Linked DNA regions of Homo sapiens: region 2 is linked to region 1. Evidence: fine-mapped expression QTL. A gene starts in region 1. The other region holds a variant in brackets. All regions are shown on one strand. Distances are from middle to middle.

The links.
Region 2: its variant is fine-mapped to the expression of FRRS1L in cerebellar hemisphere (GTEx, PIP 0.90).

Annotation. Positions count from the first base shown.
Region 1 is chr9:109,163,711-109,172,048 of GRCh38, reverse strand. It overlaps FRRS1L (ferric chelate reductase 1 like), which reads left to right and starts at 4,800. Exons shown (of 5, transcript NM_014334.4): 1 at 4,800-5,148. The coding sequence starts at 4,911. It overlaps EPB41L4B (erythrocyte membrane protein band 4.1 like 4B), which reads left to right. Exons shown (of 26, transcript NM_019114.5): 26 at 1-75.
Region 2 is chr9:109,132,369-109,140,706 of GRCh38, reverse strand. FRRS1L (ferric chelate reductase 1 like) reads left to right here. Exons shown (of 5, transcript NM_014334.4): 5 at 3,080-8,338. The coding sequence ends at 3,252. Among named protein-coding and RNA genes, the nearest start is that of TMEM245, 17 kb to the right of the region's middle. The variant T/C (reference allele first, on the strand shown) is at 3,059.

The DNA.
Region 1 (8,338 bases):
TGTTACTGTATTTGAAACCCAGTACCTTTGGCAGCTCACCTCTAACCAGTAAAATAAGAGGATTCCATGGTTTCAGCAGTTGTCCTGGTTATTTGCCTATTTAAGTGAATGATGGGTGCTTGGCATTGTGACTGAGAAGATGAAATTGTGCTGGATGGATTCATAGGGATGAAAATGAATTGGCGCAATTGTTTCACATTTTTTATATATTTTAAACCCAAACAACAGCACTATATGGGCACACAACACACACCTTATGTCCGGGGGAAACAATCAGCTTACTGACATAGTCATTCCAGAGCTAGGGCTCCAAACTGTAGGATGCAGATTCCCAGTAGGCATGGAAGGTTATTGCAAGGGGTCTGGGAAACCTGCAACCCACAGCTTTATGGATTGTAAACTGCATAGGAAATTCTATGTTTGAAGAGTTTGAGATCCTAGGGCATTCAGAAGATCCCACTTGCATGCACCCAGAATTTTATATTCCCCAGGAATATAGCAGAGGAATATTCTGGTATCATATTTATCTTTCACCATCTCAAAAATTACAGTTTTAAAAACTCAAATAAAATTCATCACTATAACCATTTTAAAGCGTACAATTCAGTGGTTTCTAATGCATTCACAATGTTGTGCAGACAATACCACTATCTAATTCCAGAACATTTACATCATGCCAAAAGGAAACCCCATGTCTGTTAGCAGTCACTACTGATTCTGACCCCTGGCATCACCTGGCGACCACTAATCTACTTTCCGTCTATGGATTTGCTTATTCTGGAAATTTCATATGAACAAAATCATACAATATGTAGTCTTTTGTGACTGGCTTCTTTCACTTAACATAGTGTTTTCAAGGTTCATCCATGTTGTAGCATGTATCAGAACTGCACTCCTTTTTATGGCTTAATAATGTGTTATTATATGGATATACCATATTTGGCTTATCCAGTCATCAGTTGCGTCAGTTGATAGATATTTGGGTTGCTTCTGCTTTTTGGCTATTATGAATAATACTGCTAGGCTGGGCGCGGTGGTTCACACCTGTAATCCCAGCACTTTGGGAGGTCGAGGTGGGCAGATCACCTGAGGTCAGGAGTTCGAGGCCAGCCTGACCAACATGGAGAAACCCCATCTCTACTATACAAAATTACCTGGGCATGGTGGTGCATGCCTGTAATCCCAGCTACTAGGGAGGCTGAGGCAGGAGAATCACTTGAACCCGGGAGGCAGAGGTTGCGGTGAGCCAAGATTACACCGTTGCACTCCAGCCTGGGCAACAAGAGTGAAACTCCGTCTTAGAAAATAATAATAATAATATTGTTATGAACATTTGTGTACAAGTTTTTGTGTGAACATCTGTTTTAAATTCTCTTGGAATTGCTGGGTCAAATGGAAACTCCATGTTTAACTTTCTAAGGAACTGCCACAATCACAGCTTTTATTTCTTACAAAATCCAAAGTGAAAAATTATATATACTAGACAGTCAGAAGCCTGGGCAAATCGGTTACTCATCAGATACCAAGATGCAGCAATGATTTTGGGAGTTTTTAATCGCAAAAAAGGTTGTGTCAGAGAAATTGCTTTGAGGTGGAGAGAAAATAAAGGTACTGTCTTTCTTTTTAAAATGAAAATGAATTTAAATCTGGTTCATCTCTAAGTTTTTGTTTGAGTGGCCAGCTCTTGTACAGCCAGTGGTCTCAGAATGTTCAGGCAAAGTTCCTCCCCAGAAAATTTGCACAGTAGAGGAAACTACAATATTTCTTAGCTGTTCTGTAGAGTCACATTGGTGGGGAACAGAGGGTCTCTGCAAACCTAGGATGTAACTAAGAGGGGAGCATGTGCTTAAGGTTGGAATAGGTCTGCCTCCACTCTTTCCAGGACTTAAATCGTGTCAGAAAACATGAAGAGAAAGAAAATCCCCAAAGGCAATTTGAGTGGATGGGAGAGAATCTCATGAAATGGAAGGAGCCGAATAGGTTGCTGGGCCCTGAAAAGGCATAAGGCTTGAGTGACCCATAAAAGCTATAGGTTTTCCCAAACACTGCATGTTCTCACTCATAAGTGGGAGTTGAACAGTGAGAACACATGGACACAGGGAGGGGAACATCACACACCGAGGCATGTTGTGGGGGGTGAGGCAAGGGGAGGGAGAGCATTAGGACAAATACCTAACGCATGCAGGCTTAAAACCTAGATGACGGGTTGATGGGTACAGCAAACCACCATGGCACATGTATACCTATGTAACAAACCTGTACATTTTGCACATGTATCCCAGAACTTAAAGTAAATTAAAAAAAAAGTTGAACATGGAAAAAATAATTCATAAAAAAAGCTATGGGTTTTCTCCCTAGAAAAACCCATACATCACAACATTATTCCAGCACTTTCATAAGGTCCTCATATCACCCCTGAAGCCTATCTGTGGCCCCCTGTGAGTCTACATGAGTAGAGAGAGAATTGAAATCCACAGTTTACCTGCAAACTTCATTTTAGGCTGTAGTTGTAAACCGTCCCCAAAATACCCAAATACCCCCATAAAAACAATATAGAAAGCCCACGTGGTGGTGGTTTTTTTTGTTTTGTTTTGTTTTTTTGTTTGTTTTTTGTTTGTTTTTTGAGATGGAGTCTTGCTCTGTCGCCCAGGCTAGAGTGCAGTGGCCTGATCTCGACTCACTGCAAGCTCCGCCTCCCAGGTTCACGCCATTCTCCTGCCTTAGCTTCCCGAGTAGCTGGGACTTCAGGCGCCCGACACCATGCCCGGCTAATTTTTTGTATTTTCAGTAGAGACGGGATTTCACCGTGTTGGCCAGGATGGTGTCGATCTTCTGACCTTGTGATCCGCCCGCCTCGGCCTCCCAAAGTGCTGGAGTTACAGGCGTGAGCCACCGTGCCCGGCTGCCCACGTGTTTTTATATCAGATTAATTTACTCGGAGAAGAATGGCCTGGTTTTCATTTGCCTTCTATTTGGGCACCGTTATTGTTAATTTCAGTAACCAAAATGAAGGGAATAAAAAGGAAAGTAAGAGGTAAAAGCTTGTATTCCCAAACCAGAGAATCTACACTGAAATCAAAAGTCTAATGCTTTATTTTTTTGGCTAAACTTTGGTCCATTCTAAGTTGACCATACCTTCCCTGGTGAACAGAAAGAGAAGAAAAGAAAATAAAGAAATTTTAATTTTTAAGAAAGGTTTAAGGTTTTTGTTTTTGTTTTTGTTTTTTTTTTTTTTTTTGAAGGACTACACTTTAACAGATTTTCAATCTGTTGGATCAGCTTTTTTAGAATGTTATGCATTGCCACGCTATGCTTTTTGGGAAGAAGTCTCTTGAGTTTTTAAAGTAATCATAGTTCATCTTACCTTTTTCAAATAATCTGATCTATTTTTTGTGACAACTGCTATGTTGGGGGACCTAGTGAAGCCCAAGGTTTTCATGAATTACACCTCAATTCAGCCATCAGGATTAATATGTTTAAATTCCAGTTGGACAGCCCACTGTTAGCTGATACCTAATAGAAAATACCTGACTTCTAAGTCCCCCATCATGTCTCCCCTGTTTCAACAGCACTACCCTTATCTCTCAGCCAATCAGGCCATAAAGGGTTAAGATCACTAGTTTCCTTTTGAATATTAACATTTCACAATATTGTGTACATGTGTGCATGCCACTTACAGCACTGAACCCTATTGATCCTTACCTCTATGATCTTCCCTAATCTTCATTGCATCATGTCAATGACTAATCATGAGAGATCAGGCAGTCTGACTTCTAGGTCTGCATTTGGGACCTCTATGCTTTTCTGCCTCCATAATTATTTTGTTTATGCAATAAAATAAAATAATAAAATAGGAAAAGCAGGTTAAAATGCTGGCTCTGCAACACCAGCCTGAAAGGAATTGCGTCCGCCTCTCTGATGGAAAACAGCTTAGCAATTCGAATATATCACCCCAACAACCATCATCAAAAGAGAACCCTGGGACCTGCCATAAAGCAAATGCTTGGTGTGAATCAATGGATGGCTGAGTAAATAGCCAAAAGTGAACTGCAAGCAGCAGGAATGGATTTGAGAAAAATCAACAATTCAGCATGGCCCTCAGATACGGTGTGGGCCTTCCAAGGCCTGCGCGTGCTTGCTGCAGGGAAAGAGAGTAAACCAGAAGCCTAGTTTTGAAGGGGAACAGGTTACCTACTGGCACCAGCCTCTGTTGATTACACACCGCAAGAGCCTGGAGAGGAAGCAGGTGAATCCAGTTTTCTCTGTCTCTAAACACCTCAGTTTACCTAGCTCTATTGTGGGGGTCTTGCAATTTCAAGTTCCTTCTGTGATGATCCAAGAAATAATAGGTCTAGCAAGTGCTTTATGTAAACCAAAAAGTGCCGGCACAAGGTTGAGGAGGCAGCACTGACCAGGTGTGTCCAGGGTAAACTCTCTAGAGGAGCGTTTCATAAATTGAACGTGCATTGGGATCTCCTGGGAATTTTGATGAAATGAACATCCCGCTTCATGGGTCTGGAGTGGGGCCTCAGCGATGCTAACAAGCTTCCAGGTGATGCTGATGCTGCCGGTCCGCGGACCACACTCCGGAGTAGCAAGGGGCCAGAAGGGCCAAATCTGCCTGCGTGGAGGGAAGTCGGGGAGATGGGGAGAATGGAAAGAAGGACGGTAGAAGGGAAGCTGCTAGGAAGGAGAGATCGGTGCGGGGAGGAGGGGGGTTCCAAGAAGAAGGGGGAGGCTGCGGTGCTGGAGCGAGGATGCGCAGACCGAGGCAGGGAGGCGGGGGTGCGGGAGGCTCCGCGGCTGCGCGGGCGCGTGCTGGTGGCCTCGGCGGAGGCTCAGTCCCGGCCCGCGCCCGCGGCGCCCCCGCTGCGGCCCGAGCGGCCTGGCTGCGGGATCTGTGCGCACGGATGGCGCGGCCGCCCCGGCAGCACCCGGGGGTCTGGGCGTCGCTGCTCCTGCTGCTACTGACGGGGCCCGCCGCCTGCGCAGCCAGCCCCGCGGACGACGGTGCGGGCCCGGGGGGCCGGGGACCCCGGGGACGCGCGCGGGGGGACACGGGCGCCGACGAGGCGGTGCCGCGCCACGACTCCTCCTACGGCACCTTCGCGGGGGAGTTCTACGACCTGCGCTACCTGTCGGAGGAGGGTGAGGCTGCGGGAGGGCGAGGGGTTGCGGGAGGGGAGACCGGGGGTGGGGGACCGAGGATCGGGGGAACGAGGAGAGGGGGCGAGGGAGGGGGAGGGGGTCGGAAAAGATGTCCGTGGAGGCAGCTCTTGCAGAGGCGAGGCCAGGATGGGGAGCGCAGTGCCCAGGCCTCCGCCGGCCTGGAGGAAAGGCCCAAAGAGCTGTCAATGCCTGCCGCCCGCTTTACAGATGGGGAGAGTGAGGCTGGGAGAGGGAGGGGTCATCCAAGTTCTGCAAGGCTGTGGATAGGGGTGGGTGCTGAGTCTAAGCTCCCCCAGTTCTTAGATCTGGCTTCCACCTTTGCCGCCTGGGGTTGGGTTATAGGGGAGGAGGCCGCCATCTGGCCAGGGCAGCTAGGGGGAAGCAGAAAAACCCCAACCTAAAGAGAGAGGTTGCCTTATTTCCTCCCTGTCTGTATTGACTTAAATTTGCAGTGACCAGCGCCCACCTCGTAGCATTCTGTTCCTGCTCACTGACCCGTCAGAGCTGGGTCACATCAGCCTCCCCACTCCCATCCCTCCTCTTTTATGACGCCACATATGTTATGGTCCCCTAGTGCGAGCCACCATTGTTGTGGCCTGCTGGGCCCGCAGACTGGGAGTTTGTCAGCCAAGGGCCTCCCTGTAGAGCTGCTTCAACGAGCACAAAAGCCAAGCGGATGGTGGTCAGAAGGAATGGAAACTGGCCTCTTTAAGCAACTTTGGGAAGTAGTGACTTTCCTTTTCTTCTGCTAAGAGGGATATCCAACCATCAAGCTGGGGTTTGAAGTGTTGAGTCCCAGGAGCTCATATCTGTTAGTGGATGTGTCTGTTGTTAGGATTAAGTTCAGCTGTATACAACAAGCAAACATTAATAGCTTCAACAAGATAGAAGTTTCTCTCTTACAGAAAGAAAACTAGAAATAGGTAATCCAGAACTGGTCTGGAGGCTCCTTGGTCACCAGTGTCTCTGGATCCTGCCCTTCTGTTTCTTCACAATTCTTAGCATGTAACTTCATGGTTCAAAATAACTGCTTGAGCTACAGCCATTATGTTCACATTCTAGACAGTGGGAAAAATGAAGCAGGAAGAAGGTCACTGACTACTTTATAAAGGGATTACTCGGAAGTTTCATATAACAATTTTTATACTTCTTTGGCCACAACTTAATCATATGGTTGCACATAGGTACAAAGGAGGATGTAAAATAGAGCCTATTAGCTGAGACATAATATGCCCAGTTCAAAAATCAGAATTATTGTATTAAAGAAGATGGAGAGAATGGATTTGGGGAAATGTATTAAGTAGAGGCTTAACTGCTGAATTAGAGATTTTAACATATAGTGGTTTAAATAAGCTAGTTTATTTTTCTCTCTGATAAGAGTCTGGTTGGTCTGGGGCTGGTGGGATGACTCTGTTCCGCAAGGTCATTCAGGGACCCGGGTTCTTTCCATCTTGTTGCTCTGCCATCCCCCTGAGGCTTTGTCCTCATCAGTACAGTAGAAGCCAGGTTGCATGTCCTTGTTCAAGATTGAGGGAAAGAAAAAGAGAAGTTCAGGGCAAGTAGTTACCTTTTAGGCTGGCTGCCCACATTACTGCTGTTCACATTCCTTTGGCAAAAACATAGTTACAATGACCTAGCTTCAAGGGAGACTAAGAAATGTAGTCTTCTAGCTGGAGAGCCATGTGGCGGAATCTGTCACTCTGGAAAAGAATAAATATTCCGAAGCCCGTCTGTTTCTGAAAGCATCTAATGTATCTTTACACTGTACACAGCCTAGTGCTGCCAGGTGACTTAAATGTGGTATGTGAGAACTTGTATTCTGATTGGGCTCATGCATCTAACAAATGAAGGATAAGCTCAGATTCTGTACGTCCTTTGAGTCTCTCTGCAGAGAGAATGATATGTTCATTGTATAGTCCAGAAAGTTTTATGAATGTGGACATCAGGTGGGCCACAGCCATCAAGGACAGCTTTTATAGAGTCAAGCCATGAAGTAGGAAAGACTTCAGTGACACAGAAGAGGGAAGGCATTTAGGTGAGGTGATCACATAGCAGGCAGCAGGGCTTTGTACCGATCCCTAGTGTGTCTGCTTCGCGCCCCCACCATTCTGCACATAAAACTGGTTTAACCCTCCTGAAGTCTGCCTCTAACCTGTTGGCATTGCACTCAAAAGTCTGTGATGGGGCCGGGCGTGGTGCTTCACGACTGTAATCCCAGCACTTTGGGAGGCTGAGGTGGGTGGATCAGGAGGTCAGGAGTTCGAGACTAGCCTGGCCAACATGGTGAAACCCCGTCTCTACTAAAAATACAAAATTAGCCGGGCGTGGTGGTGCACGCCTGTAATCCCAGCTACTCAGGAGGCTGAGGCAGGAGAATTGCTTGAACCCAGGAGGTGGGGAGGTTGCAGTGAGCTGAGATTGCATCATTGCACTCCATCCTGGACAACAGAGTGAGACTCGGTCTCAAAAAAAAAAAAAAAAAATCAACCTGCTCCCTGAATGAATATTCAACTGCTTTATCTGAAATGTCCTCCCTGGCTCAACTTCCTTTTACAACCATATCTCCCCTTCCCTCACCCTGAGCTTTTACTCTCCATTCTTCTCCTACCCTCTTCTCTCTGACAGTTTCATTTCCTCTTTGCATACAGATTCTACCACCATCCGGTGGGTGCTAGTTGAGATGTAAGTGGCGTGGGGCTATCAGAGGCAGTGCCTCTGCTAGATTACCCTGGGCCTAGGCTTCATCCCTGTGGGTCCTGAATAGAGACTTTCCCAAGACGCTTAGAAATAAACAGTGACATTGCCTTAAAAGCGGGGGCTGAGGAGGGGTTGCCAGAGAGAGGGAAGAAGAACCAGGAGAGAGGGGTGTCCCAGAAGGCAAAGGAAAAGAGCCTGTTTCCTACCAAGGTGTGGCCTGATAGCATGAAGGCTCAAAATTATCGATGGTTTCAGGAGATGAGAGGTTATGGGTGGAACTCTCCTAGGACAGATTCAGTGGAGAAGGAAGGAGGGAACCTGACTGACCTTGGAGGACGTGGCAAGTGAAGAAGTGCCGGTAATGCCTTTGACTTATTCTATCAATACACTTGAGGTTGTCCATTTCTAGTGACTAGGCTACTTGTTCCCTCTGTGCAGGGTACCCCCTTCTTATGTCTCAAATAGTCATGAA
Region 2 (8,338 bases), 31 kb after region 1:
GAAATAATAAAAAGTACTGAACAGGAAGGGCTTCTGGAGACTTCTCCAGAGATTGACACCAAGCATTTCATTAGGGCCCACTTTGTGACTATTCTGTTAGTCACAAATCTACCAAATTATCCCATAGTTTAACCCATTACTCCTTAAATATTTATGTGTATAGGAATTACCTGGCTATATTGTTAAAGTGCAGTTTTCTGTAGGTCTTCCCCTCTCTCCTCCCCTCTACTGGTCTCCCCTCCCCTTCCCTCCTCTCCCAGGGTCTTGCTCTGTCACCCAGGCTGGAGTGCAATGAAACAATCAGAGCTCACTGCAGCCTCCACCTCCCAGGTTTAAGTGACCCTCCCACCTCAGGCTCCCAAGTAGCTGGGACTACAGTCATGCGCCACTATGCCTGGCTAACTTTTTTGTATTTTTAGTAGAGACAGGGTTTCACCATATTGCCCAGGCTGGTCTTGAACTCCTGGGCTCAACCGATCCACCAGCTTTGGCCTCCCTAAGTGCTGGGATTACAGGTGTGAGCTACCATGCCTGGCAAGATTCTGCATTTCTAATAAGCTCCCTGGTCATGCTGGTTCATTGATGACCTCATTTTGGGTGGCAAGTCTCTGCAGCATTTGCCCAGCAAAGACCCAAGGATATCATGAGACCTTTTAGAGACTGCTAAAATCAAGTTACACTGAGTCTTGAGCATTCCTTCTGGTTGATTAGCCTAAGGGCCTGCTCAAGAATGGAAGTGAGTGTGGTTTGCAGTCCTTGCACTGAGAATTCATTCTGGCTCCTGGTAATTGCATCTTTCTTTACTGTGTGCTCATCAACTATTTGCTGCCTAATCTGATCTGGTTGTTTTTTTCCTTCAATTCGTTTCCACCAATCAGCCCAGAGATGACATAATCTACCTTTTATTTTGCCTGTTGCCAATTGGGAAGACACTTGACTGTCTCCAGATTGGTGACACCTTTTCCATTTGCTAATTTCCCAGATTACCAACAGTGGCTCTGCAGTTATAACTTCAATTACTTTCGGTACCCTGGGAAATAAATTATATCTCAGCCTGGAGAAATGGAGTAATCTAAAATAGTGGGATTTGAAGTCTAAAAATTTGAGTTTGAGTATTGGTTCTGCCCCTTGGTAGCTGTATAATATTTAGCCTATTATTTAATTTCTGAATTTCATTTCCTTATATCTAAAGTGGGGATAATAATACTTCCTATTCCATGGAAATATTGTAAGGATTAAGTGAAAACAAGTATTTGAAATTGCTTTACCAATTGGAAAAAGCTGTATTTTCAGAAGGTCATCTTTTTACATATATGGCAGACTAGCCTAAAGTTCAAAGCCTTCTCCAAATCTGGTCCTGCTTTACCTGATAAGCTCTCTCAAAACTTCTGTTCTTCTCACTAACTCTAAGCAAAACAGGCACATTCCTACCCCATATACTGGCTTCTGCTTTTCTTGTTTCCTGAATGCCCTTCTATTTTTTTTATGTTTTTATTTTTATTTTTTTTTAAACGGAGTCTCACTCTGTCGCCCAGGCTGGAGTGCAATGGCGCGATCTTGGCTCACTGCAACCTCAGCCTCCCAGGTTCAAGCAGTTCTCCTGCCTCAGCCTCCCGAGTAGCTGGGATTACAGATGCCCACCACCACACCCAGATAACTTTTGTATTTTTAGTAGAGACGCTGTGTCACCATGTTTGCCAGGCTGGTCTCAAACTCCTGATCTTGTGATCCGCCCACCTCAGCCTCCCAAAGTGCTGGGATTACAGGCATGAGCCACCACACCCGGCCTCCTGAATGCCCTTTTAATTGATTATATCCTACCTATTCTCCTAAGGTCCCTGTAAGGGGGAAAACTTTGAACTAAGGCTTGAAAGGGGTATGAGGTTGGATTTCACTCAAAGAAGGCATGAACTGTAGGCGCATAGTTAAGTTGAGCAGCCCTTGCAGGTGACCAGTGAGCTGAGGTTAGGTAGGAGAGGTGACTGGGATCTATTGAGAGAAAAGTCTGCTCTGTTACCCAGTCTGGAGTGCAGTGAAACAATCACAGCTCACTGCAGCCTCCACCTCCCAGGTTTAAGTGATCCTCCCACCTCAGCCTCCCAAGTGTCTGAAACTACAGGCATACAAACCTGAGAAGTTTGATTTTTGCTAACTGGGGCCAGCACGGACACTAAGCAGGGACCTGACATGTCAAGTTTGGCAGGGCTTCCCTAGCAGATAGGACCTTAAAAACCCTCACTCTGAGCCCTATTCCTAAGGAGACCTTTGCACTGAATGTATATGCCTTAGTCTCCCTAACCCAAGTTTCAAATGGATTATTCAGGAGGTCAGACACTTTTAATCAACTGAAGATTATTAAATATATTTTACACACAGTCTGTACTTCTTTCCACTTGTAACAAAATTAAAAGAAAGTTTCCCATCCAAAGACTAGTTTGGTACTTTAATCATCCCACTTTCTATACCATTCTACCCTAATCTGCCAGACACACAGACACACACAGACACACATCCAGTATACCACACTCCCTCTGGCATGGCCTGGGCAGGCTACTAAGTGTCCCACAGACAGTAGAGGAGGGCTTCCATCTGTAAGGGAGACGTTAGTAGTGTTGTCAGGAGTTGTTGATGATCCATATATATACAAGATAGATTTGAGGGAAAAAGTTAGTAGTCTCTGCTGTTTGAAATAAAAATATAGTTTGCCCATTTGGGTATTAATAAGACAAAACTCATAGAGCCGTTTTAGGAGGCAATCATACAATAATCACACAAAATTATGTAACTAGTAGTTTTAAAATTGAGATGGCAGGAAACAGATCAACAGCATTGTTCTGATGGGGGAGTGCAGATTAATAAGAACTAGTCTTTTTGGATAAATTTAACTAATTTCTATGTTCTTTATTATATGTACAATGATAGAGAATTCTGATAACTCAAATACCTGAATCCAGATCTTTGTAACCACTGCTTACGTATTCAACACTAAATAGACTTTTGATTTTTCCATTGTTTGCCTATACCATTATAAATCTGTTCTTTTTTCAATTGCCCCTGC[T/C]CTTCTCTTTTTTTCTTAAAGGCTCTATCACTCGACATGATATAGACTCACCGCCGGCTTCAGAGCGTGTTGTCAGTATTTACAAGTATGAAGACATTTTTATGCCATCAGCTGCCTATCAAACCTTCTCATCTCCATTTTGTTTGCTTCTGATTGTTGCTCTGACCTTCTACCTATTGATGGGAACCCCCTAACCACAGCTGCAGGGCCAACAGATTACATGGATTGGGAAGTCTTTAGTATAAATATATTTTTTAAAGAATATCCAGTATAATTTTAGCTTCAATTATTTAAGAAAAAAAACCTCATATAATTTCAGCTTTTTGGAAGAAAGAACAAGCTTCTTTTGTAGTCAAAGAAGATTGTTTAATAATGACCCTATACTTTTGGAACATACTTACACCTTTTCTAAGCACTTTCACATATGTTTTCTTATTTAACTTCACAACATCTCTGAGTTGGATTGATGAAAATTGTGATTGCCATCTTCCTGAATGGGATTTGAGACCCAAAAAGACTGCCTTTTTATGATCCACATACCATATAACTTTGGCTAGAAATGACAAATAGAAAGGCAGAGAAGGAACTAAGTATAGAAATCATGTCTCAAAACAGTCTTTACTATGAGTGCTATAGCACAGAGAGTTATTTTGAATATTACTAGGGAGAACTTTACTGAATGTCATAAGTTCACAGTCAGCCTTTTGGGCAGAAGAAATTTCAAATTTCCGTAAAGCAGAAGTGCTTTTGGATATTTACACAGCCAATGGGGAGATTGGAGGAAAATACAATGATATGAAAATAGTTCATATTTATTTGAAATTTTGGCCGAGCATGGTGGCTCACGCCTGTGATCCCAGCACTTTAGGAGGCCAAGACGGGCAGGTCACCTGAGGTCAGGAGTTCGAGACCAGCCTGGCCAATGTGGTGAAACCCCCGTCTCTATTAAAAAGTACAAAAATGAGCCAGGCGTGGTGGTGCACACCTATAATCCCAGCTATTCGGGAGGCTGAGGCAGGAGAATTGCTGGAACCCAGGAGGCGGAGGTTGCAGTGAGCCGAGATTGTGCCAGTGCACTCCAGCCTAGGTGACAGAGCCAGACTCTGTCTCAAAAATAACTAACTAAATAAATAATATTTATTTGAAATTTCTTCTCAGTTAGAGAGCAGCTATGGGAAAACATTTTTACTGCTATTTGCAAAGGTTGGAGACCAAACTGTGAGCATTCCTGAAGATGTAAAGTTGTGTTAATGATATTAAAAAAAAAAAAAAAGGGAATTCTTAGCAGTTAGAATTTGAACTTTTCTACCACTGAATTTTATAAAACTAAGGTATTCATCTGTGGTTACAGTGAATTCTCTTGTCAGAGCCAGCATACCTTAAGTGTGATTAAAAATGTATTTTTTTTTTTTTTTGCGATGAATTTTCCCTCTTGTCGCCCAGGCTGGAGTACAATGGTGTGATCTCAGCTTCACTGCAACCTCCGCCTCCCAGGTTCAAGTGATTCTCCTGCCTCAGCCTCCTGAGTAGATGGGATTACAGGCATGTGCCACTATGCCTGGCTAATTTTTTTGTATTTTTAGTAGAGATGGAGTTTCACCATTTTAGTCAGGCTGGTCTCGAACTCCTGACCTCAGGTGATCCACCTGCTTTGGCCTCCCAGAGTGCTAGGATTACAGGTGTGAGCCACCGTGCCTGGCCTAAAAATGTGTTATATCAGACAAAACATCTTAGTAAAAATTTAGGGCATTTTAATAATAAGCCAACAGTTTTTGAGACTGTAGAGATTTTGAGTAGAATTTTTTTTATGAGGTGGCTTTTTAAAAAATAATTGAAAATGGGAAAATGACCCATAAAGTGAATTCACCTAGAATATCCATTTAAATGTTCAGACTTGTGGCTGAGCGCGGTGGCTCACACCTGTAATCCCAGCACTTTGGGAGGCCAAGGCAGGCGGATCACCTGAGGTCAGGAGTTCGAGACCAGTCTGGCCAACATGGCAAAACCTTGTCTCCACTAAAAATACAAAAATTAGCCGGGTGTGGTGGCACATGCCTGTAATCCCAGCCACTTGGGAGGCTGAGGCACGAGAATCACTTGAACCTTGGAGGCAGAGCTTGCAGTGAGCCAAAATTGTGCCACTTGCACTCCAGCCTGGGTGACAGAGGGAGACCCTGTCTCAAAAAAATAAGTAAAATAAAATGTTCAGACTTATAAACTAGACAGGTAGTCAGCATAATTCATAGTAATGCCTTGACATTAGGCGCCCCAAAGGACTCCTTTGTTCTTTGTTCCAAATGTCTGTGCTAACTGCCCATTTTGAGGAGAGAAGTCTGCAGGTATAGTTAGTGCTGCTGAGACATTTCCACTCTGGCATTCTAGAGTTCTCTGGCTTGCCCTTGTTGCTTTAAAGCTGGTTCCAACTTCGTGGGCTTTATGATTGAGCAACACTGGTGATTGTGATTTCTAATACCACCCTCCAGATTCATGTCACAGGTGAAAGTCTGCCTGTGGGGAGAGCTTTCACATTCTCCTGGAGTTGAACCAAAATAAGGAAAACATCAACAAACACAGTTACCAAAAGCTTCCAAGGAGGGATGGAGGAGAAATTCTGTTCATTGCAGATGGGGAGAAATTAAATGACATCAAGTGCATAATGGAACTGGGTAGGATTCAAACTCAAGTCCCCTGGTTCAAGTCCTTGACTCCACTCTGGGCATGGCTAAGTCTGGCCTGTGTCTCATCTTCTCAGCTCTAGTGGCTGTTTAGTAGTGAAGATACTGATATGCAGGCAGCCATGTTGTAAATAAGAAGCAAATATTTTTATATTTCTCTCTCTTATGTGTATAATATTTGAGCTACAAACAGGTTAAAACAAAAGAGAGACTTCAGCTTAGTAGCAGGCAGGGAAGGAAGAAGTGAATGCAGCTTCCTTCCGCTTACATTTCTAATCAAGCTAATTATTTCACTAGTGATTTCTCATTTGATTACCGATTTTGCTTATTTATGCTTAGAACTTTCAATGACTTCTCAGTGCCATTAAGGTAAAATGCAAGCCATTTCTGTGACCTGCAATATCATCTTTTGCCACTCCTCCTCACTTGCTATGTCTTAGCAAGACTGAGAGGCTCTCAGTTCTTCAGACCTGCTCTATCTCACCTCTCATTTTGTTCATATTCTCCACCTCTTGTGCTTGATGAACTCCTATTCACCTATCAGGTCACAACTTAAATATTTTTTCCTCCAAATCTCTGGACTACATAGGTCCAGGCCCCCATCAAATGCTCCCATAGCACATTGGGCTTCCTCATCAACATGCTCGTTATACTTTTCTAGAATTGCTGGCTTGTCCTCCTTGTTATCTCCCTAATGCAGAGACCATTACTCATCATTGTAGCAGATATTTATCCATATCAGGTACTCAGCAAACATTTGTGGAATGAATCTATATGTGAAACTATACTTCTATGGCAAGTTTGTTTGGTTCAGAAGGCTTGCATTTCATGTATATTGGGAGACTGGCCAACATTTTTATATTCTTCCTCCTATGCTCAAACCATAAATAATTATGTTAGCAAACACTGAACTTTGTCTTTTGAAACATAAATAGAAACATCCTTAGTAACAGTACTAACAGTAATCATTTTTCAGAAATAAGAATTCACACCAGTGATACAGAATGGCCTTTGACCATTATCTCAGAGAACTAGCAGTCGATAGACATGCTGAAGTGATAATTCCAAAAACTTCAGTTTCATTCATCCCTACTTAAATATAAGAGAATCAACTTCTATTTTATGTCTGTATTCCCATTTTCTAATATACTACTTGTCACAGAGGAGATGCCCAACCAGTGTTTTTCGTAAAGTACCTGAATAGATTAATAATAATGCTAGTGAAATATATTTAGTGCTGTTCTAAGCACTTTACATGAATTAACTCATTTAATCCTCACCGCAACCATAGGAAGTAGATTCTATTATTTATCCAATTTTACAGATGAAAAAACTGAGGCTGGTCACTTGACATAAATTACCAGTGCTGGCCAGGACTTTAGAGACCATTTAATCCAATGCTCTTATTTTACAGAGGTGCAGCTGAAGCCTAAGGAGGTGATATGATTTCCTACACATTCATGCACCTTCGTGCACATCCATTAAAACTTTTATTAAATGGAACCCACTATCCATACTCCAATTAGCTAGGTGCCTTTTTTCCCCCATTTAGTAATTTACAATTAATTGGAGGACTTTTTATAGTTATATTTAGAGGAAAGGAGCATGTTTTACTCTATATCAACTTTCTTTTCTGCTTAAAAGCATTTTGATTCTTTATTTTACCAGTCATTTTAGTTCTTTTAATAGGTTTAATACACAGATCAAACAAGACTTAAATACATTTTTAACAATGTAACAATTTAAAAGAAATTGCCTAAAACCTAGGTCTTCTAACTTGGAGCCCAGTGCTTTTTTTATTGCTCCGCTGAGTCAAAAGGTGAATATATAAACATGATTTCAGATAGAATGCAGAAGCTGTATTTAATTAAGTTGGCTTTTGTCATTAAAGAAATCAGAAAGTTTGGACAACTCAGGAATGGATTTCCATCCTAGATGGTATTTACTACTATTTCTGGAATTAAGTTTACTGTCTATATTCAGGATTTTGTGCATAAGAGACGTGACCACTGAGGTTGTGTGTCATTCTTATCTCTACTCCAGGGGTCAGCAAACTTTCTCTGTTAAGGGTCAGATAGTAGTTTTTTGGCTTTTCAGTCTCTGTTTGGCTCTGCTATAAACAATACATAAATGAATGAGCATGGCTATGTTCCAATAAAACTTAATTGACACTGAACTTTGAATTTCATGTACTTTTCAAATGTCACAAATGTTTTCCTTTTGATTTTTTTCAGAAAGCCATTAAAAAAATCCAAAGACCATTCTTAGCTTGCAGGCTGCACAAAAACAGGAAGCAGGCGGGGTTTGCTTATGGACTGTGGCTTTCCCACCCTTGTTCTTAGATAGGGACACACCAATATATCATGATTAGTTGTAAAGGATACTGCCAGTAACATATTATTACTGGTTAGTTGTAAGAATATCAAAGTTAGTGAATAATTTGCTTTTAAAATAAATTATTGTTGATTTATTTTTATAAATAAATGGCACAGGGCATCTCATGCTCTTGCATTCTAATATATTTTCTGGAATTGATGCAAAAGTGGTGGCAGTAAAGTACAGAGCCGGCTAAGCAGCAGTTTTGTCTTAAGTAACTGTGGTGATC